Linked DNA regions of Homo sapiens: regions 2 and 3 are each linked to region 1. The links come from fine-mapping of genetic effects on gene expression. A gene starts in region 1. Each other region holds a variant in brackets. All regions are shown on one strand. Distances are between the middles of the regions. Region 1 holds the start of PSMB5 (proteasome 20S subunit beta 5). Region 2 holds the start of C14orf93 (chromosome 14 open reading frame 93). Region 3 holds the start of LOC124903286 (a long non-coding RNA gene).

Region 1 (8,181 bases):
TTTTTTTTTTTTTTTTTTTTGAGACGGAGTCTCACTCTGTCGCCCAGACTGGAGTGCAGTGGCACAATCTCTGCTCACTGTAACCTCTGCCTCCCGGGTTCAAGCAATTCTCCTGCCTCAGCCTCTAGAGTAGCTAGGACTACAGGCGGTGCCACTACGCCTGGCTAATTTTCTGTATTTTTAGTAGTGACAGGGTTTCACCGTGTTAGTCAGGATGATCTTGATTTCCTGACCTCGTGATCCGCCCACCTCGGCCTCCCAAAGTGCTGGGATTACAGGCGTGAGCCACCGCGCCTGGCCCACAGAACATTTTTAAGCAGGTGAGTGTTAAGATCGAGATGATGTTTTAGGCTGGGCGCAGCGGCTCACGCCTGTAATCCCAGCACTTTGGGAGGCTGTGGCGGGCAGATCACCTGAGGTCAGGAGTTCAAGACCAGCCCGCCCAACATGGCAAAATCTTGTCTCTACTAAAAATAGAAGAAAAAAAATTAACTGGGCCTGGTGGCGCACGCCTGTAATCCCAGCTACTCGGGAGGCTGACGCAGGAGAATTGCTTGAACCTGGGAGGCAGAGGTTGCAGTGAGCAGAGATCGTGCCACTGCACTCCAGCCTGGGCGACAATAGCAAAACTCAATTAAAAAAAAAAATGGTGTTTTAGGAAAACGAATCTGATGCTGTGCAGAATGAATTAGAGAGTGACAATTTAGACCCATAAATCAGTTAGGAGAAGGCCAGGCATGGTGGTTCACACCTGTAATCCCAGCACTTTGGAAGACTGAGGCAGACAGATCGTCTGAGGTTGGGAGTTCAAGACCAGCCTGGCCAATATGGCAAAATCCCATCTCTACTTAAAATACAAAAAAAAAAAAAATTATCCAGGCAATTCATCCTGGCTAACATGGTGAAACCCCATCTCTACTAAAAAATACAAAAAAAAACAAAAATTAGCGGGCATGGTGGCGGGCGCCTGTAGTCCTAGTTACTCGGGAGGCTGAGGCAGGAGAATGGCGTGAACCCGGGAGGCGGAGCTTGCAGTGAGCCAAGATTGTGCCACTGCACTCCAGCCTGGGTGACAGAGCGAGACTCCGTCTCAAAAAAAAAAAAAATTATCCAGGTATGGTGGCACACACCTGTAGTTCCAGCTACTTGGGAGGCTACGGCAGGAGAATCACTTGAATCCAGGAGGTAGAGGTTGCAGTGAGCCAATATTGCGCCACTGCACTCCAGCCTGGGCGACAGAGCGAGACTCCATCTCAAAAAAATAAAATAAAATAAGGAGAATATTTCAGCAATTCCAGAATGAGGACATAAGAAGCCAAAGGTGGTATCAGTTGTAATGAAAAAGAATGTGAGAAACACTGAAGTGGAAATAATCAACAGGACCATGCAACTAACTGGATATGAAGGAAAGAAAAAAGCTGTAAAAGATAAGCAAGGACTTCAAGCCTTTTTGACTAGAAGACCACTGCTGTCATTCTTTCAGGTGTTCATTTGGCAAATATGTATTAAGCATACAGTGGGTACAGAAATGAATAGTAAGTACTTGTATTTAAAAGCTCACAATCCGGTAGGAGATAAATGTAATTTCTAACCAGGTAAAATGTAAAAGGGCCTTAAGAGAGGTACACATGCTATCAGTGGCAGAGTGAAAAACCACTGGAAGGAGGCAGAAAGACTAGTTGCACTGCAGGGGTGACTGCAAAATAATATATGCTCAGTAAACAGACGCACTCCGCATTTTCCACATCATCCAAGTGTGAAACACAAAGATCTCCTGTTTAATTCTATTCTGATGATTGGGCTTGGAAAGGGTTGCCAATTTCAGCATTAAAAATACAGCATAGGCCAGGCGCAGTGGTTCACACCTGTAATCCCAGCACTTTGGGAGGCCGGGGCAAGCGGATCACCTGAGGTCAAGAGTTTGAGACCAGCGTGGCCAATATGGTGAAACCCCATCTCTACTAAAAATACAAAAATTAGCCAGGCGTGAGGCCGGGCACGGTGGCTCATGCCTGTAATCCCAGCACTTTGGGAGGCCGAGGTGGGTGGATCACGAGGTCAGGAGATCAAGACCATCCTGGCTAACAAGCGGATCACCTGAGGTCAAGAGTTTGAGACCAGCGTGGCCAATATGGTGAAACCCCATCTCTACTAAAAATACAAAAATTAGCCAGGCGTGAGGCCGGGCACGGTGGCTCATGCCTGTAATCCCAGCACTTTGGGAGGCCGAGGTGGGTGGATCACGAGGTCAGGAGATCAAGACCATCCTGGCTAACACGGTGAAACCCCGTCTCTACTAAACACACACACACACACACACACACACACACACACACACACACACACAAATTAGCCTGTTGTGGAGGCAGGCGCCTGTAATCCCAGCTACTCGGGAGGCTGAGGCAGGAGAATCGCTTGAACCTGGGAAGCAGAGGTTGCAGTGAGCAGAGATCGTGCCACTGTGTTCCAGCCTGGGGGACACAGCAAGACTTGGTCTCAAAAAACAAACAAACAAACAAACAAAAACAATACAGCATATGCAGAGTCTGCTGGGGGAAAGATGGGGCCGAACTGGGCATCAGAGGAAAGTGGAATTTCGGTGTTGATAGATGTTGCTGCTAGAATCCAACAAGGAAGGCCAGAGACTGACTTCATAGAACCATAAAGCAGGAGGCAACATTTCATACATATGCACACTTCCCGGTTTGTTATAGTTCCCAAAAGATTTGAAAAATGAAGGTGGGTGGAGGGAGGAAGAGGCAATGAAATATAGTATGTTCCTGAATAAAAGGCATCATCTTAGCAAGTTGAAGTTAGAGAATCTCTTGGTACATATTTATGCAGTCTCAACCGTCCTCCCGTCTCTGAGATGGTAAATTACTACTGACACTTATTCAGGTCTGAACTGAGAATCTAGTTTGTGGATTAACTGGACCCTTTGCTTTTTCTTCTTCCATCTGCCTTTTAGGCAATTCATTACTTATTCGAATTTCCACCAGAAGGTAGGAGTCAAGAGAACGAATATTGGATATTAATAACCGGTTACTGTTAAAGAAGGGTTGCTGTATGGCGACTGACAACAAGAGGTATAGCACTTTTATTTTGTTGCGTTGTTTTACCACTAATTGCTGTGGTTTAACTAATATAGGGAAATGGCCTCAGAATGGATCATTATTTTACCCAATTTTAGAAGGTGCCCTTAAACAAGATGGCAACCTCAGGCGCGTTAACAAGGTGCTGAAGCAGCAGCGATGTAACCTGTTGCTTGGACACCAGGCTGGAGTGGGAGGACTCACCGCTAAGGGTTCAGAACCGATTTTCAACCAGTCACGCCCTTCTCAAAGATGGCCGACCTCACTTCCCTTACGCAACATGGACGTTTTCAGTCACTTCCTGTGATTTTGAGGTTATTCTGATCCAGGACTACTTGCATGACCAAAGCCAAGATGGCAGGTACGTCCTTTTAGAATTTAAGGTTAGTGAAGCCATCTATTTCCCCGACCCCCTTCAGTGAAAATGGTCTTTCGCATCTGGCTCTTCTTTTTGGAGGCGTGCTTGCCAGCAGTCAAAATGGCTCCATTCCGGAATAGATTTAATAGGAAGTGAAGCTGTGACGGCGAGGCGTTGCCCGGCCTATCTTTGCTAGGCGTTCTCAGAATTAGTTCTTTCTGCCCACACTAGACATGGCGCTTGCCAGCGTGTTGGAGAGACCGCTACCGGTGAACCAGCGCGGGTTTTTCGGACTTGGGGGTCGTGCAGATCTGCTGGATCTAGGTCCAGGGAGTCTCAGTGATGGTCTGAGCCTGGCCGCGCCAGGCTGGGGTGTCCCAGAAGAGCCAGGAATCGAAATGCTTCATGGAACAACCACCCTGGCCTTCAAGGTGTGGAGCCAGCCCCCTTGCCAGGCTGAGTACTGAACGCCCGCGACTTGCCTGGCCTCCCAGCCTGACCGGAGTTTGCGGTGGCCTTGGCCACCAACCCAGGCGGAGGCTGGGTCCTCTCGTTCGGACCGCAGCAGTTTTGCTGTCTCATTGGCCCAGGAGGCCCCTGTCTTTGCTCTGGTTGGAAAGGGTGGCGGTGGGGCCGGGGGTAAGTCGGGGGAGGAAGGTGAGGCCTCTTGGGTTGATTCCTAGGCGACCCCAGGTTGCTGCTGTTCAGGATCTTCTAGCTGGGAAAGGCCGCAACAACAATGAATCTTGGCCGAGGGAAGGCTATTGTAAACGTTTACCAAAGTTTTGGAAACTGGGCGGCCCCTCAAGGCAGGGGTAACTGAAACTGGCATGAAGGGGAAGCGTGGTGAGGGTAAGCATTGTACTAAGAATCAGACATTTGGGGTTCCTTGCCCAGCTCTGCAATAACTAGCTCTAGATTGAGAAATCATTTGATTTCATTGAACCTGTTTCCTCATCTATAAAATGATTTGTTTTTTTTTTTTTTTTGAAACAGGGCTTTTCGCTGTCGCTCAGGCTGGAGTGCAGTGGCTCCAGCGCCTCAGCCTCCAGAGTAGCTGACACTATAGGCACACACCACCACGACAGGCTAAGTTTTTTTACTTTTTGTAGAGATGGATCTCCCTGTGTTGCCCAGGCTGGTCTCCAGCACCTGGCCTCAAGCGGTCCTCCCGCCTTGGTCTCCCAAAATGCCTGGGTTACAGGAGTGAGCCACCACGCCCATCCTATAAAATGAATTTAATATGGGTTATATCCATGTCAAGGGATTGATGTGAAGCTCGGGTGACATTAATATATGGTGAAGTATAGAAGTATACTGTGAAGTATAAAAGGACGGAGAAAGAGATGTGCTGGGTTTGGATTGATGCAAAAAGAAGTATGTAGGAGTGTTTTTGTGGTCTTATGTGGCCTGTTTTGTGTTTTCCTCTGATCTTAACAGTTCCGCCATGGAGTCATAGTTGCAGCTGACTCCAGGGCTACAGCGGGTGCTTACATTGCCTCCCAGACGGTGAAGAAGGTGATAGAGATCAACCCATACCTGCTAGGCACCATGGCTGGGGGCGCAGCGGATTGCAGCTTCTGGGAACGGCTGTTGGCTCGGCAATGTCGAATCTATGAGCTTCGAAATAAGGAACGCATCTCTGTAGCAGCTGCCTCCAAACTGCTTGCCAACATGGTGTATCAGTACAAAGGCATGGGGCTGTCCATGGGCACCATGATCTGTGGCTGGGATAAGAGAGGCCCTGGTGAGTTAAGCTGCAACCACATGATCCTTGGGCTGACACTACAGTGAGGAGGGGTTGGATGGACAGATGAATTAAAGGGCTTGGTGTCAATGCTGAAGAAGTGTAATTAGGTCCTTAGCCCTTCCTTCTCTCTTTTTTTTTTTCCTGTTTTTTTAGACTGTGTCTCATTCTGTCGCTCAGGCTGGAGTGCAGTGGCATGATCTCAGCTCACTGCAGCCTCCGCCCCCAGGTTCAGGAATTCAAGACCAGCCTGGCCAACATGGCGAAACCCCATCTCTACTAAAAATACAAAAATTAGCCCGGCGTGGTGGCGGGCGCCTGTAATACCAGCTGCTCAGGAGGCTGAGGCATGAGAATTGCTTGAACCCAGGAGGTGGATGTTGCAGTGAGCAGAGATCGCGCCACTGCACTCCAGCCTGGGCGACAGAGTGAGACTCTGTCTCAAAAAAAAGAATTTAAGAATTCGTTGAAGGCCGGGCGTGGTGGCTCACTCCTGTAATCCCAGCACTTTGGGAGGCTGAGACAGTGGATCACGAGGTCAGGAGATCGAGACCATCCTGGCTAACAAGGTGAAACCCCGTCTCTACCAAAAATACAAAAAATTAGCCAGGCGTGGTGGCAGGCGCCTGTAGTCCCAGCTACTCAGGAGGCTGAGGCAGGAGAATAGTGTGAACCCAGGAGGCGGAGCTTGCAGTGAGTCGAGATGGTGCCACTGCACTCCAGCCTGGGCAACAGAGCGAGACTCTGTCTCAAAAAAAAAAACAAAAAAAAGAATTCGTTGAATCCCACATGTGGCAGTAGTGCTATTTCAAGTGTTCATTGACCATGTGTGGCTTGTGGCTACTGTATTGGACTCTAATATATGGTTGTCCCTCAAAAGTTAGTCATTTCTCTTCTGTTTTTTTCTTTTTTTCTTTTTTTGAGATGCAAAGTTTCACTCCGATCGTCCAGTCTGGCGTGTAATGGCATTGTTTCAGCTCACTACAACCTCTGCCTCCTGGGTTCAAGTGATTCTCCTGCCGCAGTCTCCCAAGTACCTGGGATTACAAGCGCCCACCAGCATGCCCAGCTAATTTTATATTTTTAGTAGAGATGGGGTTTCACCATGTTGGCCAGGCTGGTCTCGAAATCCTGACCTCAGGTGATTCACCCGCCTCAGCCTCCCAAAGTGCCAGGATTAAAGGCGTGAGCCGCTGCACCCGGCCTCTTCTCTTTTTTTCTTTAGAGAGTCTTTGGCCTAGAAGGGGCCTTTTGGGCTCCTCTCTTTTTTGAGGGGGTGGGGATGGAGTCTCGCTCTGTCGCCCCGACTGGAGTGCAGCGGCGGGATCTCAGCTCACTGCAATCTCTGCCTCCCAGGTTCAAGTGATTCTCCTGCCTCAACCTTCCATGTAGCTGAGACTACAGGCATATGCCACCATGCGCGTCTAATTTTTGTATTTTTAGTAGAGACAGGGTTTCACCATGTTGGCCAGGCTGGTCTTGAACTCCTGACCTCAGGTGATCTGCCCACCTCAGCCTGCCAAAGTGTTGAGATTACAGGAGTGAGCCATTGCGCCTAGTCCTGGGCTCATTTCTTTTATTTCTTTGCTGGTTATAATCACCCTTACAATCATGCTAGGTCCGGTTCTATCATCTCTGAAAATAAGTTCCTTAGCCTGTTTTTCCTTTCCAGCATTTAAGAAACTTGCCAGACAGTTCAACTTTGTATTTAATGTCATTTCCTCATCAGCCAGTTTTGAATTGCCCGTTTAGTAAAGTTGGAGTATAGCTAGTCACCTTCTAATTTTCCCTTCCATATGCTTAAAAATAATTATTCTTTCCTCCTTTTGATTTTGCTTCATTCATTTACCTGCTTACTAAATACCTAGTTATCTTATAGAACAATTATAGGGTACCTACCACTTTTTCACTTGCTTTCAAACGAGAATAGAAAGGGCTGTAGGGAGTATCCACTTACTACCCAATGGAGGATGAAAGGAAATTAAAAACCGGATGTGAGAGAGGAGCTCACTTTGTTACTTTGGAAATTGAGATGCTTTTCTCTGAAAGGTGGGAAAAGACAGTTCCATACATTTTACGTGATCCAGGGAAGCATTTTGGAAATGTTGCTTTGAACCTTTAGCTGGCGGATTTGTTCTAGGTGATGGAAACAGTGTAAAAGAGTACAGGGACCGGGTAACAAGGAAAATCCAGGGAGACTGAGCATCATTTAAACAGTGCCTTCTTCAAGAGGCCTTCCTGATGACCCTGTCCCATTCATTGTGAGTCAGCCCCTTGCCTCATATTACAGTTGGCCCTTGAGCAACATGGGTTTGAATCACTCAGGTCCACTTATACGCAGGTATTTTTCAACCTAATTCTGATTGAAAATACACATTCCCAGAATTTGAAACCCAAATATACAGAGGACCAATTTATTTATTTATTTATTTATTTATTTTTGAGATGGAGTTTTCCTCTTGTCACCCATGCTGGAGTGCAATGGCGCGATCTCAGTTCATTGCAACCTCCACCTCCTGGGTTCAAGTGATCTCCTGCCTCAGCCTCCCGAGTAGCTGGGATTACAGACACCCGCCACCCTGCCAGCTAACTTTTGTATTTTTAGTAGAGACAGGGTTTCACCATGTTGGCCAGGCTGGTCTTAAACTCCTGACCTCGGGTGATCCACCTGCCTCAGCCTCCCAAAGTGCTGGGTGGCGTGAGCCACCATATCTGGCCAACTTTTCATATATGCAGGTTCTGCAGGGCCAACTTTGGGACTTGAGTGTGCATAGATTTTGGTATATGCAGGGGTCTTGGGACAAATCCCCTTCATATACCAAAGGATGACTAGTTAACCCAAGGCTGAATAAGATAAATAACCTTTTTTTTTTTTTATTGAGACGGAGTCTCGCTCTGTCGCCCAGGCTGGAGTGCAGTGGTGCCATCTCTGCTCACTGCAAGCTCCGCCTCCCGGATTCACGCCATTCTCCTGCCTCAGCCTC
Region 2 (8,181 bases), 21 kb after region 1:
TTTTAGGGGAACACATTTCAGCCCATAACAATCACTCTATTTATTATTAGTTTACTAATTAATTACAAATGGCAAATATACTTCTACAACAGAGACGTCTAGCAGACATGAATAAACTTGCAGTCACCAATAATAGAACAAACTGACATTATATGCCTCTTGATGTGATACAATAAGAAGTATATAAAATTACCTAAGTAATATTCTCGCTAAAAATGTTTAACCTTGGCCCTGATGTGGTGGCTCATGCCTATAATTCCAGCATTTGGGGAGGCCAAGGCAGGAGGATCCCTTGAGCCCAGGAGTTTGAGACCAGCCGGGGCAACATAGGGGGATCTTGTCTCTACCAAGTAATAACTTTTTAAAATTAGCAGGGCATGGTGGCATGCACTTGTAGTCCCAAGCTACTCAGGAGGCTGAGGCAGGAGGATGGCATGAGCTTTGGATGTCAAGGCTGCAGTGAACTGTGATTACATCACTGCACTCCAGCCTGGGTGACAGAGCAAGACCCTGTATCAAAAAAGAAAAAAAAAAAAAAGCTTAACCTGAACCTAATCACAAGAAAACAGATAAATCAGATTGCAAATAATGTCCTGACTCTTCCAGTAGAAACACCACGAAAAATTCACACACACCCACATGGCAAAGGAGCACAGCACTTAGGTGCAGTGCTGCAGAATCCTGTCCCACGCATTGCAAATGAGCTTGTTCTCGGTCTTGGGACACTTGTGGATGTACCCTGTATCTTCACAGTACTTGATTTTCACAGTAACTGGTTGCCAAGGAGAAAAACCATAAAGGCACCTATAATCCCAGCACTTTGGGAGGCCGAGGTGGGTGGATCATCTGAGGCCAGGAGTTCGAGACCAGCCTGGCCAACATGGTGAGACCCCGTCTCTACTAAAAATGCAAAAATTAGCCGGGACTGGTGGTGCATGCCTGTAATCCCAGCTACTCAGGAGGCTGAGGCAGGAGAATCGCTTGAACCCAGGAGACAGAGGTTGCAGTAAGCCGAGATAGTGCCACTGCACTCCAGCCTGGGTGACAGAGCAAGATTCAGTCTAAAAAAAAAAAAAAATTAGTTGGGCGTGGTGACGGGTGCCTGTAATCCCAGCTACTCAGGAGGCTGAGGCAGGAGAATTGCTTGAACCTGGGAGGGAGAGGTTGCAGAGCCAAGACCATGCCACTGCACTCCAGGGTGGGCAAGAGACTCTATCTCACAACAAACAAACAAATAGAAAACATAAGGGGTACAATTTCACAAAATCATTAGGTTTTAAGATGAGTGTGTGTATTTGAAAGTTTTGTGATGATTGTTTCTTTTCTTGTAGGTTGAAAGAAGCTCAAAGGCAAGAATGTTACTTTTGAATTCCCAAAGTTTCAATTGTAAACAAAAATGACTAAATAAAATATCATTCACAGTTTCATGTTTGTTTGTTTGTTTAGACAGAGTTTGGCTCTTGTCGCCCAGGCTGGAGTGCAATGGCACGATCTTGGCTTGCTGCAACCTCTGCCTCCCAGGTTCAAGTGATTCTCTTGCCTCAGCCTCCCAAGTAGCTGGGATTACAGGCACACACCACGAAGCCCGGCTAATTTTTGTATTTTTAGTAGAGACGGGGTTTCACCATATTGGCCAGGCTGGCCTCCAACTCCTGACCTCAGGTGATTCGCCCACTTCAGCCTCCCAAACTGCTGGGATTACAGACGTGAGTAAGCCACCGTGCCTGGCCTGTTATAGCATTTTAATTTGTTTTGTTTTGGTTTTTGACACTTTTTTTTTAACTGATCTTAAGATGTTCCAGTTGCTTCTACAATTTTTATCAAATTTTTGCATCTAACAATCAAATTCAGATCTTTTTTCTTTAAAATCGAATCTACTTTCACTCCTGCTACAATACAAACCCCTTCTCTCTTCCTTGAGGGCTGTTCTCTGCTGCCTGCCGTCTTCCTTTTCTGTTGTTTCCTTTGCATTACCTTCCACCTTTCTGTACCCTTTCTCAACTCTGAATCTCAGCTCTCTCATACTTTCCTCTCCAGTGTCTCTTAGGACATATTCTCAGCTAGCTGTAGGATTTCCTTCCACTCCTATTCTAAGATGCTCTCCCATGTGTTAACGAATGACTGTCGGAAACAGCTTCCCGGCCTCACTCTAGGGGAAGTTACATTTCACTGTAGGGGAGGCCTCTTTCAGATCTCATTGAACAGAAACAGCCTAAAATAAAAGATCTGCTTGATTCAAAGCCAAATTAGTGATTTTCCTCAATCGACAAGTCATCTGTAAAGTCTAACATTTGAAATTTCAGATGTTTTAGAGTGAAAATTGTAATTTTTAGGTGAAAATGGTATATTCTCCCTATTCTCATTACCTAACAGCACACAAGTTCATTACTCAAACCTTCTACTCAAAGATTCTCCTATGACCATGGGGAAAATAGAAATTTAGGCCGGGCACTGTGGCTCATGCTTGTAATTGTTTGGGAGGCCAAGGTGGGAGGATCACTTGAGCCCAGGAGTTCGAGAACAGCCTGGGCAACGTAGTTAGACTCCATCTCTACAAAATATTTTAAAAATTAGCTGGGCATATTGGCACACACTTGTAGTCTGAGCTACTCGGGAGGTAGAGGCTGCAGTGAGCCATGATTGCACCACTGCACTCCAGCCTGGGTGACAAAGCAAGTGATCCTGTCTCAAAAAGAAAAAGAAAAAAAAAAAGTCCAGGCGCGGTGGCTCAGGCCTGTAATCCCAGGACTTTGGGAAGCCGAGGCGGGCGGATCACCTGAGGTTGGTCGAGGTCGAGACCAGCCTGACCAATATGGAGAAACCCTGTCTCTACTAAAAATACAAAATTAGCTGGGTGTGGTGGTGCATGCCTGTAATCCCAGCTACTTGGGAGGCTGAGGCAGGAGAATTGCTTGAACCCGGGAGGCAGAGGTTGCGGTGAGTCGAGATCGTGCTATTGTACTCCAGCTTGGGCAACAAGAGTGAAACTCTGTCTCAAAAAAAAAAAAAAGACATGGCTTTTCCAACTTAACTTTGACCTTTGTAGTAATGGACTCATAATTAAAAATATATCCCAGGAGACTGTATGGCAGTTATGAACATTCCATTGATCATCAAAGTGAAGACAGCTTGTCTTTCATGGACAGAACGAGAGCAAAAGAGGGTAACAGCAAGGCAGAGTGGGTTTCAATTTAGACAGAGACTAATGAATAGTCAAGAGCACAGGTTCTGTAGTGAGCACACCTGGGTTCAAGCTATGATTCCACTAGTGACCACCATTGAGTTAATTAGCTCAACAACCTCTAGGTAACTTACCAATCCCCCTCTAAGTCTCAGTTTTCTCCTCAGTAAAAGAGGGAGTATAATAGTACTTATCTCACAGAATTGATTAAATGAGATACAGAGTGCCTGGCACCAAGTAAACTCTCAATAACTGTTGATTTTAATAATTATTAACATTTCTGTTTTCCCTTTATCCTAACATTTTTGAAAATATATCACCTGTGGCTGGGCACAGTGGCTCATGCCTGTAATCCCAGCACTTTGGGAGGCCGAGGCAGGTAGATGATCTGAGGTCAGGAGTTCAAGACCAGCCTGGCCAACATGGTGAAACCTGTTTCTACTAAAAATACAAAAAGTTAACCGGGTGTGGTGGCAGCCTCCTGTAGTCCCAGCTACTCTGGAGGCTGAGGCAGGAGAATTGCTTGAACCCAGGAGGCGGGGGTTTCAGTGAGCCGAGATTGTGCCACTGCACTCCAGCCTGGGCAACAAGAGCAAAACTCCATCTCAAAAAAAAAAAAAAAAGAAAATATATCACCTGTGCATTTGAGAATATGAGACGTCCTAGTACATTCTCATCAAGAGTTAATATTTAATATTTTCCTAGTGATCTCATGGCTTTATTTATTTATTTATTTATTTTTTGAGACAGAATCCCACTTTGTCACCCAGGCTGGAGGGCAGTGGTGGAATCTCGGCTCACTGCAACCTCTGCCTCCCAGGTTCAAGCGATTCTCCTGCCTCACCCTACAGAGTAGCTGGGATTACAGGTGCACACCACCACACCTGGCTAAGTAGCTGGGATTACAGGTGCACCCCACTACACCCGGCTAAATTTTGTATTTTAGTAGAGACGGGTTTCACCATGTTGATCAAGCTGGTCTCGAACTCCTGACCTCAAATGATCCACCTGCCTTGGCCTTCCAAAGTGCTCAGATTACAGGCATGAGCCACCACGCCCAGTTAGGCTTGTGTTATTTTTTAGAAGTTTAAATGAAAAGCATATAAAAAGAAACACATGTTGGGCACAGTAGCATGCACCAGCTATTGGGGAGGCTGAGGCAAGAGGATCCCTTGAGTCCAAGAGTTTGAGACCAGCCGAGGCAACATAGTGAGGTCCTGTCTCTAAAAAGAGAAAAAAGAAACACAGAAAGTCTATAACCCTTGAGAAAGTAAACACTAGCACCTCATTTTCAGGTAAAAGGCAAATCTATTGCCTAAGCTAGGGTGCTGCTAGGGTGAAAACAACACTGAAGGCATTAGGCCTTTCTGCTGAGAACTAGATCCTACCAACAATGCCCTGGACGTTGAGAACCAACAATTTTATGGACGAGGCCTGACTGATGGCCAGTGTCAAAATGTGTGTGTGAGTGTGTGTGTGTATGTTGAACAGCTTGATAAGACAGCTGGCTTGGGGGTTCAGGTCTGTCGCCTATTAGCTATGTAAATTTGTAGTAAGTACTCTCTGAACCTGTTTCTTGTAAAATGGTGA[C/T]GCCACTAATCTAACTTGGCTACAATCAAATTATCTAATATCCAGGCCATATTTAATTTTCCCAAGTATCCTGTTAGTGTCCAGGATAGCATTTTTTCTTCTGACCCAGATCATACTTTGCATGTAGTTGTCATGTCCCTAGATTATTATTATTTTTGAGACGAAGTCTTGCTCTGTCACCCAGGCTGGAGTGCAGTGGCACCATCTCGGCTCACTGCAATCTCCGCCTTCCGGGTTCAAGTGATTAATGTGCCTCAGCCTCCGGAGTAGCTGGGACTACAGGCATGCACCACTACACCCAGCTAATTTGTGTATTTTTAGGAGAGACAGGGGTTTCACTATGTTGCCCAGGCTGGTTTCCAACTCCTGAGCTCAAGGGATCTGCCGTGCCGCTTCGGTCTCCCAAAGTACTGGAATTACAGACATGAGCCACTGCGCCCGGCCAAAAAAAATTTATTTTTAAGTGGCACGATCTCAGCTCACTGCAACTTCTGCCTCCCAGGTTAAAGGGATTCTCCTGCCTCAACGTCCCAAGTAGCTGGGATTACAGGCGTGCGCCACCAAGCCCAGCCAATTTTTGTATTTTTAGTAGAGACGGGGTTTCACCATGTTGGCCAGGCTGGTCTTGAACTCCTGACCTCAGGTGATTTGCCTGCCTCATCCTCCCAAAGTGCTGGGATTACAGGCGTGAGCCACCACACCCGGCCTTATTATTTTATTATTATTATTTTTTGAGATGGAGTCTCGCTCTGTCCTCCAGCCTGGAGTGCAGTGGCGCAATCTTGGCTCACTGCAACCTCTGCCTCCTGGGTTCAAGCAATTCTCCTACCTCAGCCTCCCAAGTAGCTGGGACTACAGGTGCGCATTACGATGCCCAGCTAACTTTTTGTATTTTTAGCAGAGACGGGGTTTCACCATGTTGGTCAGTCTGGTCTCGAACTCCTGACCTCGTGATCCGCCTGCCTGGACGACAGAGAAAGACTCTGTCTCGAAAAATAAAAAATAAAAAAAAAAAATAATAATAATAATACCTAAATTGATGCACATAAAGTGTTCAGAACAGTTACTTCCTGCACAATAAGTGTTCACAAATTGCTACTTACTATAGAAGGGAAATTCTTGTGAGATGTGAGTTTCAGAATCTGTGTTTTAGCTAGAAAAGAAATTCACTTATTTGATCATAAATGATTTTTGGCCCGGCATGGTGGCTCACGCCTGTAATCCCAGCACTTTGGGAGGCTGAGGCTGGTGGATCACGAGGTCAAGAGATCCAGACCATCCTGACTAACACGGTGAAACCCCGTCTCTACTAAAAATACAAAAAATTAGCCAGACTTGGTGGCGGGCGCCTGTAGTCCCAGCTACTCGGGAGGCTGGGGCAGGAGAATGGCGTGAACCTGGGAGGTGGAGCTTGCAGTGAGCCGAGATCGGGCCACTGCACTCCAGCCTGGGCGACAGAGCGAGACTCCAGCTCAAAAATAAATATAAATAAATAAATGATTTTTTTGGTCAGTGTTTACTAAATATCTACAATTATGCCAGCTACTGCAGTAAGAATCAAACAGTTCCTGGATGGAAAAACAATTTTAAGATATGATCACTGACCTCAAACAGTTTACTGGAGTGAAATTACTAAAATATGTGAATCAAGGTAGAGTTACGTGCCGCTAACTGGAGTACACATGAAATTCATGTTGATGGGAGCGGAGAGAAGGAAGTAAGCAGTCTGTGCTGAAAGAGAATGGATAAAAATTGACCAGTCAGGGAAGGGGAGACGCATAATTCAGGCCAAAAAAAAAAAAAAAAGCCACTTGAGTAAAGGAATAATACAAGATTGATAAGACGAGCGTAGAGGGAACTAAGAACAAATATGTGCCCAGGCGCGGTGGCTCACGCCTGTAATCCCAGCACTTTGGGAGGCCAAGGCGGGAGGATAACTTGAGGTCAAGAGCTCAAAACCAGCCTGGCCAACATGGTGAAACCCCGTCACTACTTAAAAAAAAAAAATAGCCGGGCGTGGTGGCATATATCCGTAATCCCAGCTACTCGGGAGGCTGAGGCAGGAGAATCGCTTGAGCCTCGGAGGTGGGGGTTGCAGTGAGCCGAGATCACATCACTGAAAAAAAAAAAAAAAAGGCAGGGTGGGCACATCACCTCAAGTCAGGAGTTCAGGACCAGCCTGGCCAACATGGCGAAACCCTGTCTCTACCAAAAACAAAAAAAATTAGCTGGGTGCAGTGGCGCACGCCTGTAGTCCCAGCTTCTTGGGAGGCTGAGGCAGGAGAATCGCTTGGGCGGGGTGGGGGTGGGGGTGGGGGTGGGGGCGGAGGGGCGGAGTTTACAGTGAGCGAAGATCATACCACTGCACTCCAGCCTGGGTGACAGAGCGAGACTCTGTCTAAATAAATAAATAAATAACAAATAGGTGGGTGGGACCAGATTATGGGTGGCTTAAAATCCAGGTATACCAGCTGTCTTCCTGGAAATAAAGAGGAGCCACTTTAGTTTTGAGAATGTGGTCTGAGCCAGGTAGATAAACTGGGAGCTCGGGCTGAAGTGTAAGACTTCAGAAAGATGTTCCATACGTGAATGTTCATTTAAACGTGGGGGTGTTAAGCAACACACGTGACCCAGAGACATTTCACCTGGAAACCGGAGTAGGGCCCACGCACCAAGTCCCTGATGTTTAATTGCAGTCTAGAATGTTACTGACTAGTTCACTCAATTTAACAAAGTGTCCGGAGGTCGCTCACTGGATTGTTATGCTGGTGACTGGGCCTTGTTTCACTGAGAAAAAAAGATGGGAAAGGGTGACAGGACGGTGAGAAAGTGAAAGGGAGAGAGGTGGGAAAGGGGTCTGCCAAGGTCCAGGCGAGGTTGGGGGTCGGGGGTCCGGCGGCCCTCAGGGCCCCCCCCGCCCCCAACTCCGGGGTTGGCGCCTCGGGCGCGGCGCGTGTGCTTGCGGGCGGGGCGCCCCGCGGCCGCGGACGGCCAATCCGGGAGGGCGTCCGGGGAGGGGCGGGGCTTGCCGGCTCGGGCTCCGCGAGTCCTCCTTTTTGCACACACACGAATACAAAGAGCCATACGACCTTCGGGTATCCTTTTTCCATTTTTTTTCCTCCTTAATCTTGTGTGTGTTTTCAAATTTTTTAAAAATAGAGATCTGTAGCAGTGTTGGGGTGAGGAAACTGTTGCTAAGGGGAATTTGCTCTTTCCCCCATTTCTTTTTCTGTCTCTCTTCCTCTTTCTTTTTCCTGGTCAAGGTTTTAAATATACCAAGAAGTTGAGAAGCAGGATGGCCGTGTACAACCGTTTCCGGCCAAATTTATAGTTTTTTTTTCTTTTTTTTAAATCACATTTTAAGAACTGGTAGATTTTTGTGGTTGAGGGACTTTAAAAATTTAGCCGCT
Region 3 (8,181 bases), 32 kb after region 1:
GGCACACGCGGTAGAACATCTGTAGGGCTGCAAAGCTGCACCTCCGCGTCAGTTCTCACGGCGAGCGCCGCCTTCAGCCCAAGTTCTCAAAGCTCTCGGGGCTACGTAGTCTACCCTCCCCGGTGACCCGGCGAGATCCCTAGCCGCTCCTCCGGCCGCTCTGCTCTCCGCATCCCTCGCGGGAATGACCCCCTTTACCCGGGACTCCCAGAGCGCACTGTATGGTAGGGCACAGTGGCGAGTCACCCTGTCCCCTGAGGCCTCTTGAGCAGTCGCCGATCTCTGCTTCCCGCGTCGCTGCGATCGCCTTTCCCGTAGCTGAATCACACTGACCCATCGGAAACGGTTCTGCCCTCCCTGGGGTCCACCTTGTCATCCTTGACTAATATTTAATCAACTAACATTTACCAAGTTCTCGCTGGCACGAGTTCTAGGAGCTACTTTTTCATTTTTCAGTTTCTCCATAAATGCAGTGGGTCCTTTAGGCAAACCTGAAATCGGAAATATTAATCTTACCAATGTAATCTTAGCAAATGTAAATAAAAAGGACTGTGCTATACTGGGCTAAAAATTCTCATCCTGCTATAGAAATATACGTGGAATTTTCAGATTACGTGGAATCCTTTAAAGACCGCATTCGGCCTTCTGGGTCTACAGCTCTCTTTTTTACCCCTAAAAATAAGGTCTTGGATTTTTTGCAGACCATTAGTCGAGTCACTCTTTTAAAATGTGGGAAAATAGTATTTTGTGGTATTTACTTAGCTGCTCTTGTGTGATAAGGAGCTCATTTCTGATAAAAATAGGTTTTGAGAGAACCTTTTGACAGGTGAGCCATTTTGCACCTTGAAGTGGAGGAGTAGGACTGACCAACACAGCAGGAGCTTTAAGTGGCCGTTTTCCTTATTTATTTCTTAAAATGAAGATTATGATATGAATTGCCATGCTTTCAGTAATCACATTTAAGGAAGTCTATTGCTAGCATGACCCTGAATGAGTCAAGCACCCATTATAAAAACATATATCATCTGAGTGATACCATATCATACACATCTATTAAATAGTGAGAAAACTTTTATTTTTCATAGTTTGGAGGTGAACTCAGTCATGCAGAAAATTCAAACTCAGAATGGGGAGAAAGCAAGCAAGGGAACTGCCAAGAGTATGATATATTTAGTCCTAACAAAAATGTGACTTGGGAGGAAAGGGATAGTTAAAATTATGGACAGTCTTACCCTGAACTGTCTGTCTAAAGGAGATGAATTGTCTTTCTTTTTTATCTAAATATTTATGAAAAATACCAAAAGTACTGGAAAGTACATTTTTAAGGCTCGTTTCACATTTATTTAAATTAGACCAATACTGAAATGAACCCCAAATGCTTATATTTTTTGCAAACCTAAGTGTGACATCTACTGTCATGTTGTGTTGGCAACGCATCCCAAGATTGAAGATCTTTTTCTCTTTTTTAGACCTAGTCAGTTGTTTTCAGGACTTTCTACTTAAACATGTTGCCATCATTTGAAATTTAAAATGTTAAATAAATACACTTCTTCTCTAATATACTGGTGTCTCCTCTTTTTATTTATTTATTTTTTAGAGACTGGGTCTTGCTATGCTGCCGAGGTTGGTCTCAAACTCCTGGGCTCAAGCGATCCTCCTCCTCCCAAAGTGCTGGGATTACAGGCATGAGCCACCATGCCCAGCCATGGTATTTCCTCTCAACTGCCTCATTTCTGTCATTCTGGTGGTGGTGGTGGTACCATCCTGTTACTCTTAGGCTTATAACCTTGCAGTTGTCTTTAACCAATTATCTCTATACCCCATCTCTATAACTCTGTCAATTCTCCTTATCTTACTATATAAGCGCCTTTGCTCTGACCTCTGACATGTACCCTGTTAAGTCCTGTAATTTTTTTTTTTTCCTCTAGAATGTCTTACTACCCTATCAGTTAATCCTATACATTGCTCAAGGCTCAACTGGAAGCTTTTCTTCTGTAAGAACTCTTTCTCAGTATGATTTCATTTTGTTAATGTTTCCATTATTTTGAACTAACGCCTCAGAAATTTTTCAGTCTATACCATATTATTAGGACTTGTGTGTATTTCACTTTGTTATTTATTTGTTTGTTTATTTATTTTTGAGACGGAGTTTCACTCTTGTTGCCCAGGCTGGAGTGCAGTGGTGCGATCTTGGCTCATTGCAACCTCCACCTCCCGGGTTCAAGTGATTCTCCTGCCTCAGCCTCCCGAGTAGCTGGGATTACAGGCATGTGCCACCACACCCAGCTAATTTTGTATTTTTAGTAGAGACAGGGTTTCTCCATGTTGGTCAGGCTGGTCTCGAACTCCTGACCTCAGGTGATCTACCCGCCTCAGCCTCCCAAAGTGCTGAGATTATAGGTTTGAGCCACTGCACCTGGCCTCAATTTGTTTTTTAGATAGTCCATGTTTAGAACATCCCATATTCTTTAGACATTCCCATCTGAAATACACTTTAAGTGCCTTATAGGTAGAGACTTTGTCTTCCTTTCATTTGAGTAGTGTGCAATGCATTTTGGTGAGTCATCCTTTAACATGGACTTACATATAAAAAACTTTTGGGCCTGGGCACAGTGGCTCACACCTGTAATCTCAGCACTTTGGGAGGCCAAGGTGGGCGGATCACTTGAGGTCAGCATTCATTAGTCAGGTGTGGTGGTGCATACCTGTAATCCCAGCTCTTCGGGAGGCTGAGGCAGAAGAATCGCTTGAACCTGGGAGGCAGAAGTTGCAGTGAGCCGAAATCGTGCCACTGCACTCCAGCCTGGGCGACAGAGTGAGACTCTGTATCAAATATATATATATATATTTTGGCCGGGAACGATGGCTCACGCCTGTAATCTCAGCACTTTGGGAGGCTGAGGAGGGCGGATCACAAGGTCAGGAGTTCAAGAGCAGCCTGGCCAATATGGTGAAACCCTATCTCTACTACAAATACAAAAATTACCTGGGAGTGGTGGCACATGCCTGTAGTCCCAGCGACTCTGGAGGCTAAGGCAGGAGAATTGCTTGAACCTGGGAGGTGGAGGTTGCAGTGAGCCAAGATCGTGCCTCCACACTCTAGCCTGGGCGACAGAGCGAGACTCTGTCTCAAAAAAAAAAAAAAAAAAAAAAAAAAAAATATATATATATATATATATATATATATATATATATATATATGAATATATTAGCCTAAAAATATCTCACCCCACTCACCAGCTCACCTTCTTTTTTTCTGAGCCGGAGTCTCGCCCTGTCTCCCAGGCTGGTGTGCAATGGTGTGATCT[T/C]GGCTCACTGCAACCTCTGCCTCCTGGGTTCAAGCCATCCTCCTGTCTCAGCCTCCTGAGTAGCTGGGATTACAGGCACGCGCCAGCATGCGCGGCTACTTTTTTTTGTTTTGTTTTTTGTATCTTTAGTAGAGACAGGGTTTCACCATGTTGGCCAGGCTGGTCTCGAACTGACCTCAGGTGACCCGCCCACCTCAGCCTCCCAAAGTGCTGGGATTATAGGCGTAAGCCACGTGCCTGGCCCAGCTCACCTTCTTTAATGGGGGTATATGCAGCTAATGAAATTAATGTTTTGTTTTGAGTCATTTATCCAGCACTTAAGTAGTTACCTGGTTAGTAAATATAATGTGAAATACTCGTTTATTACCTGCTGATCCCAATATCTTTCCATATCTTAGAGTTTAGGTGAGAGACTATAGCAAGAGGCTGGGAAATGAAGTCAGCAATAGTGTCCATGGAAACCAAAAAAGAATTCTTTGAATGCCCATTGTGCTAGACCACACTGTACCTAGTTTTTATAGGCAAATTAATTCAGGAAAACACCTATTTGTTGCCCTGAATGTGATGTTTTAAAATGGACATAGTATGGTAACATACAAAGTAGAAAAACAGAAGAGCAATTGAGGAACAAATTGAACTCACAATAGGAAAATACATTTAGCATTAAAAACTAGCATAAAATATTATCCTTAGTCTGAGACCAGGTCATGATAGCAAGTAAATTACAAATACTAAATTACCTTTCTAATTTGCGTCATAGAAGGTTTTGTATCTATAAATGCATCCTCATAGACTTGAGGAATGTGTTGTTTGTTAGAAATTCAATATTAAATTTGGGGGCAAATTTCCCCAAATTCTATTTCAAGCCATTGCATTTTATTCAAAATTAGGGAATCAGGAATCAAGGTGGTGGCTCGCACCTGTGATCCCAGCTACTCAGGAGGCTGAGGCAGGAGGATGGCTTGAGGCCAGGAGTTGAAGACCAACCTGGGCAACATAGCAAGACCCCGCCTCTTAAAAAAAAAAAGATTAAGGAATCAGGGTGGGTGTCCAGGTTGGGAACACAAAATGTTACAGGAATAACCATAATATCATCCAGCCGTTACTAGTGGAGCACTGACCATGTGCCAGCACTCTATAGGTGCCTTACATATATTATGTATAATCTTCACAAAAACCACTCAAAGTAGATAGTGATGAAGAAACTTGGTCTCAGAAAAGTGAAATAATTTACTAATGTTCACACAGCTCATAAATGGTGCAGCCAGAGGAGAACCTCATTTTTTTTTTTTTTTTTTTGAGATGGAGTCTCGTTCCATCACCCAGTCTGGAGTGCAGTGGCGTGATCTCGGCTCACTGCAACCTCTGACTCCTGGGTTCAAGCAATTCTTCTCCCTCAGCCTCCTGAGTAGCTGGGATTACAGACAAGTATCACCATGCCTGGCAATTTTTTTGTATTTTTAGTAGAGATAGGGTTTCACCATGTTGGCCAGGCTGGTCTAGAACTCCTAACGTCAAGTTATCCACCCACCTCAGCCTCCGAAAGTATTGGGATTACAGGTGTGAGCTACCACGCCCGGCCACCCTTTTTTTTTTTTTTTTGAGACGGAATCTCGCTCTGTCGCCCAGGCTGGAGTGCAGTGGTGCGATCTCGGCTCACTGCAAGCTCCGCCTCCCGGGTTCACGCCATTCTCCTGCCTCAGCCTCCAGAGTAGCTGGGACTACAGTCGCCCGCCACCACGCCCGGCTAATTTGTTTGTATTTTTAGTAGAGACGGGGTTTCACTGTGTTAGCCAGGATGGTCTCCATCTCCTGACCTCGTGATTCGCCGGCCTCGGCCTCCCAAAGTGCTGGGATTACAGGCGTGAGCCACCGCCCAGCCCTTTTTTTTTTTTTTTTTTTTTTTTTTTTAACCTGCAGTACAGTGCTGTTTTGGAAAGATGACCAAGGAAGGACGACCAAGGAAAGACTATTTAAAGAAGAAGGAGCTGGGCGCAGTGGCTCACACCTGTAATCCCAACACTTTGGGAAGCTGAGGCGGGTGGATCACCTGAGGTCAGGAGTTCAAGACCAGCCTGGCCAACAGCGCGAAACCCTGTCTCTACTAAAAATATAAAAATTAGCCATATGTGGTGGCACGTGTCTGTGATCCCAGCTACTTGGGAGGCTGAGGCAGGAGAATCACTTGAACCTGGGAGGCAGAGCTTGCAGTGAGCCGAGATCTTGCCATTGCACTCTGGCCTGGGCAACAGAGCGAGACTCCGTCTCAAAAAAATGATAAATAAAAATAAAAGAGAGGGGAAGAGCTTGAGGCAGGCTCAACACTGGTAGGGGTAAAAGCCTCTTGCAAGAAAGAGTAAGTGCGTGAGGCAAGAGAGTTTGGTACCAGAAAGGAGTTAGACAACTCAGCCAGTGTCCCAGCCGGATGCATCTTAATTACTGATTTTACAAATACTGAACCCAGCTGGCAAGCATTTGAATACTATTATTTATTATCACCAAAACATTCTTTTGCCCACAGCATCTATGTTTAAGAGCAAACTCCCTGCATGATGTAGGTTAAATAAAGAATTAAAAAGAAAAAGCTCTGCAGGAGCAGTGTAGGCCCTTATTTAGGAAGGAAAAGAATACATAAGTGATTCATCTATAAATTGACATAGAAGTGCTTAGTGCTTTCCTTTAACCTTTAGTTTTAATTTGGTTTAACCTTTAGTTTCAGGTTTAGCTGTGCCTCCCAGTGACTATAATGACAAGGAAGCTGTAAATGTATTTGAGTTAAGCTTTTGCGAGAAGTAAGTATCTGGCACAGAAAAAGCCATTTCTTCGATATAAAGGGTGGAAAGAGCAAATTAAAGACTATTCTTTAATAACCACATGTAATTAAAATGCATTGTCAGATTTATGTTTTAGTACCTCAGAGGCATTGATATTGCCTCTTTCTGAAATGAGATTGCCTATTCAAAAAGAAAAAAGAAAACCCTCAATATATAGAAAATTCTCTTAACCTCCTACTCTTTTTTTTTTTTTTTTTTTTTTGAGGTGGAGTCTCGCCCTGTTGCCAGGCTGGAGTGCAGTGGCACCATCTCGGCTCACTGCAACCTTTGCCTCCCGGGTTCAAGTGATTCTCCTGCCTCAACCTCCCGAGTAGCTGGGGTTACAGATGCCCGCCACTACGCCCGGTTAATTTTTGTATTTTTAGTAGAGACAGGGTTTCACCATGTTAGTCAGGCTGGTCTCAAACTCCTGACCTCAGGTGATCGGCCCACCTCAGCCTTCCACAGTGCTGGGATTACAAGCGTGAGCCACCATGCCCGGCTCCTCCTCTCCTTTTAATTGTGATGTTTTAATTTACAGGGTAAGAGAGAAATGCATCTCTCAGAGAAATTGTAAACATACTTAAGGTTTTGACATGGCACATCAGAAGGATTTTTTTTCTATCATCAAGTATTATTTAGAAAATTACAATATTTATTAAGTTCCCGGGAGTGTTCTCAGTGGTACAAATCAACTTCTTTACCCCTTTTTTTCTCTCCTGGAGTAGTTTAGTTGCTTAACTACAGTAATTTAAAAGAAAGGCAGTTTGGTTTATTACTGACATTCTGGTTTCTCCTTTAATGGGGGCTGGTCATGCAGGCAAAGTGACAGCATAGCTGTTCAAACATTCCTGTTGAATTTTGGATCCACCCTTAAGGAGCTTGAGAAATGAAGATAAGGGGCCCCACGGGTGATTTCTCTGGGCTCCTGGCTGGAAGATTCAGGACAGCTAGTTTCCATTACAGAGGCTCATGGCCCAGGTACACGACTATGTGGGAAAGGGGGCTGTGCAGCCCTGGGTTACCCCAGCTCAATTCCCTGATCTTTTCATTTCATTTCCCTGCCCTCATCCCCAAAGCATTAATGATATAATATAACAGTGAGAAGTTGGTGACATGCTGAGGGCTGCAGTGATGGATGTATTCCTTATTTAGGAGTGTTACTCTGAATGCATTTGTATGAAAATTACAGAGAGGGTAGAATCATGATTGTCATGATTGTTAATGTCAACAAAAAGTGGTATCAGTTAAAAAAAAATACAACACTACATTGAAAGTAGCAATAACTGGATTCTGCTGTTATTCCTCTGACCTTGAAAAAGACATATAACTTCTCCACATGTCTCTTCTCTGGACCTGGAGTAATATGTTTCCTAGTGCTGTTGAGTAGATGAGGTAACTTATGTGAAGTGTTCTGAACACCTTAAGGAACAATGTCAAAGCAATGAAATGCAGTACCATTATTACAGTAAAGATGGTGAGGAGGAGGAGGAGACAGATCTACATTTTCTTCCTTAATCTTCTAATCTTTCCAGATGCCGGAAGGTCCTTCTGAATCCCTTCCCTGTTCCTTAGGTTGCACTAGTCGGGGGTTCCATGCTGGGGGGCAGAAGGAATGCTCTCTACCGTCTGAAACCGTTCATCAGGAAGGCCTTGATTTGTGATGTGCTAGGAGAGCACAGGATCTGCAAATAGAAGGCACCTGTCTCCCTTCTGCAGGCCGAGGAGAGGCCGCCATGGACTGTGTGCTTCTTCATGGCTTGTTTACTCTTCTTTCACAGACCCTACAGCTTGGGGCCTGGGCTCCTCTGACCATCCTCATTGAGAAAGGAAAGTGAGTCCAGAGAAGTTGATGCTTCCTACCTGTTGGAGCGGCCCAGCAGTGTAAGCGTGGTTGTTACTGCCCCATCCGCCATGTCCTTCAGTGCCACCATTCTCTTCTCCCCTCCCAGTGGCAGCGAGGCCAGATGCTGCTGCTGCGCCTGTAAGAGTGAGACTAATGGAGGCAACACAGGCTCCCAGGGTGGGAATCCTCCTCCCAGCACCCCCATCACAGTGAC

What was found.
Region 2: its variant is fine-mapped to the expression of PSMB5 in transverse colon (GTEx, PIP 0.97).
Region 3: its variant is fine-mapped to the expression of PSMB5 in subcutaneous fat (GTEx, PIP 0.98). The same link has a PIP of 0.9 or more in thyroid.

The regions. Positions count from the first base shown.
Region 1 is chr14:23,030,384-23,038,564 of GRCh38, reverse strand. PSMB5 (proteasome 20S subunit beta 5) reads left to right here and starts at 3,665. Exons shown (of 3, transcript NM_002797.5): 1 at 3,665-3,881; 2 at 4,891-5,197. The coding sequence starts at 3,684. RefSeq lists enhancers at 3,191-3,485, 3,270-3,939, 2,740-3,939.
Region 2 is chr14:23,009,786-23,017,966 of GRCh38, reverse strand. It overlaps C14orf93 (chromosome 14 open reading frame 93), which reads left to right and starts at 7,824. Exons shown (of 7, transcript NM_021944.4): 1 at 7,824-7,866. RefSeq lists a silencer at 7,486-7,835. The variant C/T (reference allele first, on the strand shown) is at 4,772.
Region 3 is chr14:22,998,878-23,007,058 of GRCh38, reverse strand. C14orf93 (chromosome 14 open reading frame 93) reads left to right here. Exons shown (of 7, transcript NM_021944.4): 2 at 7,657-8,181. The coding sequence starts at 8,036. It overlaps LOC124903286 (a long non-coding RNA gene), which reads right to left and starts at 4,633. Exons shown (of 2, transcript XR_007064075.1): 1 at 3,676-4,633; 2 at 1-491. RefSeq lists an enhancer at 49-418. The variant T/C (reference allele first, on the strand shown) is at 3,309.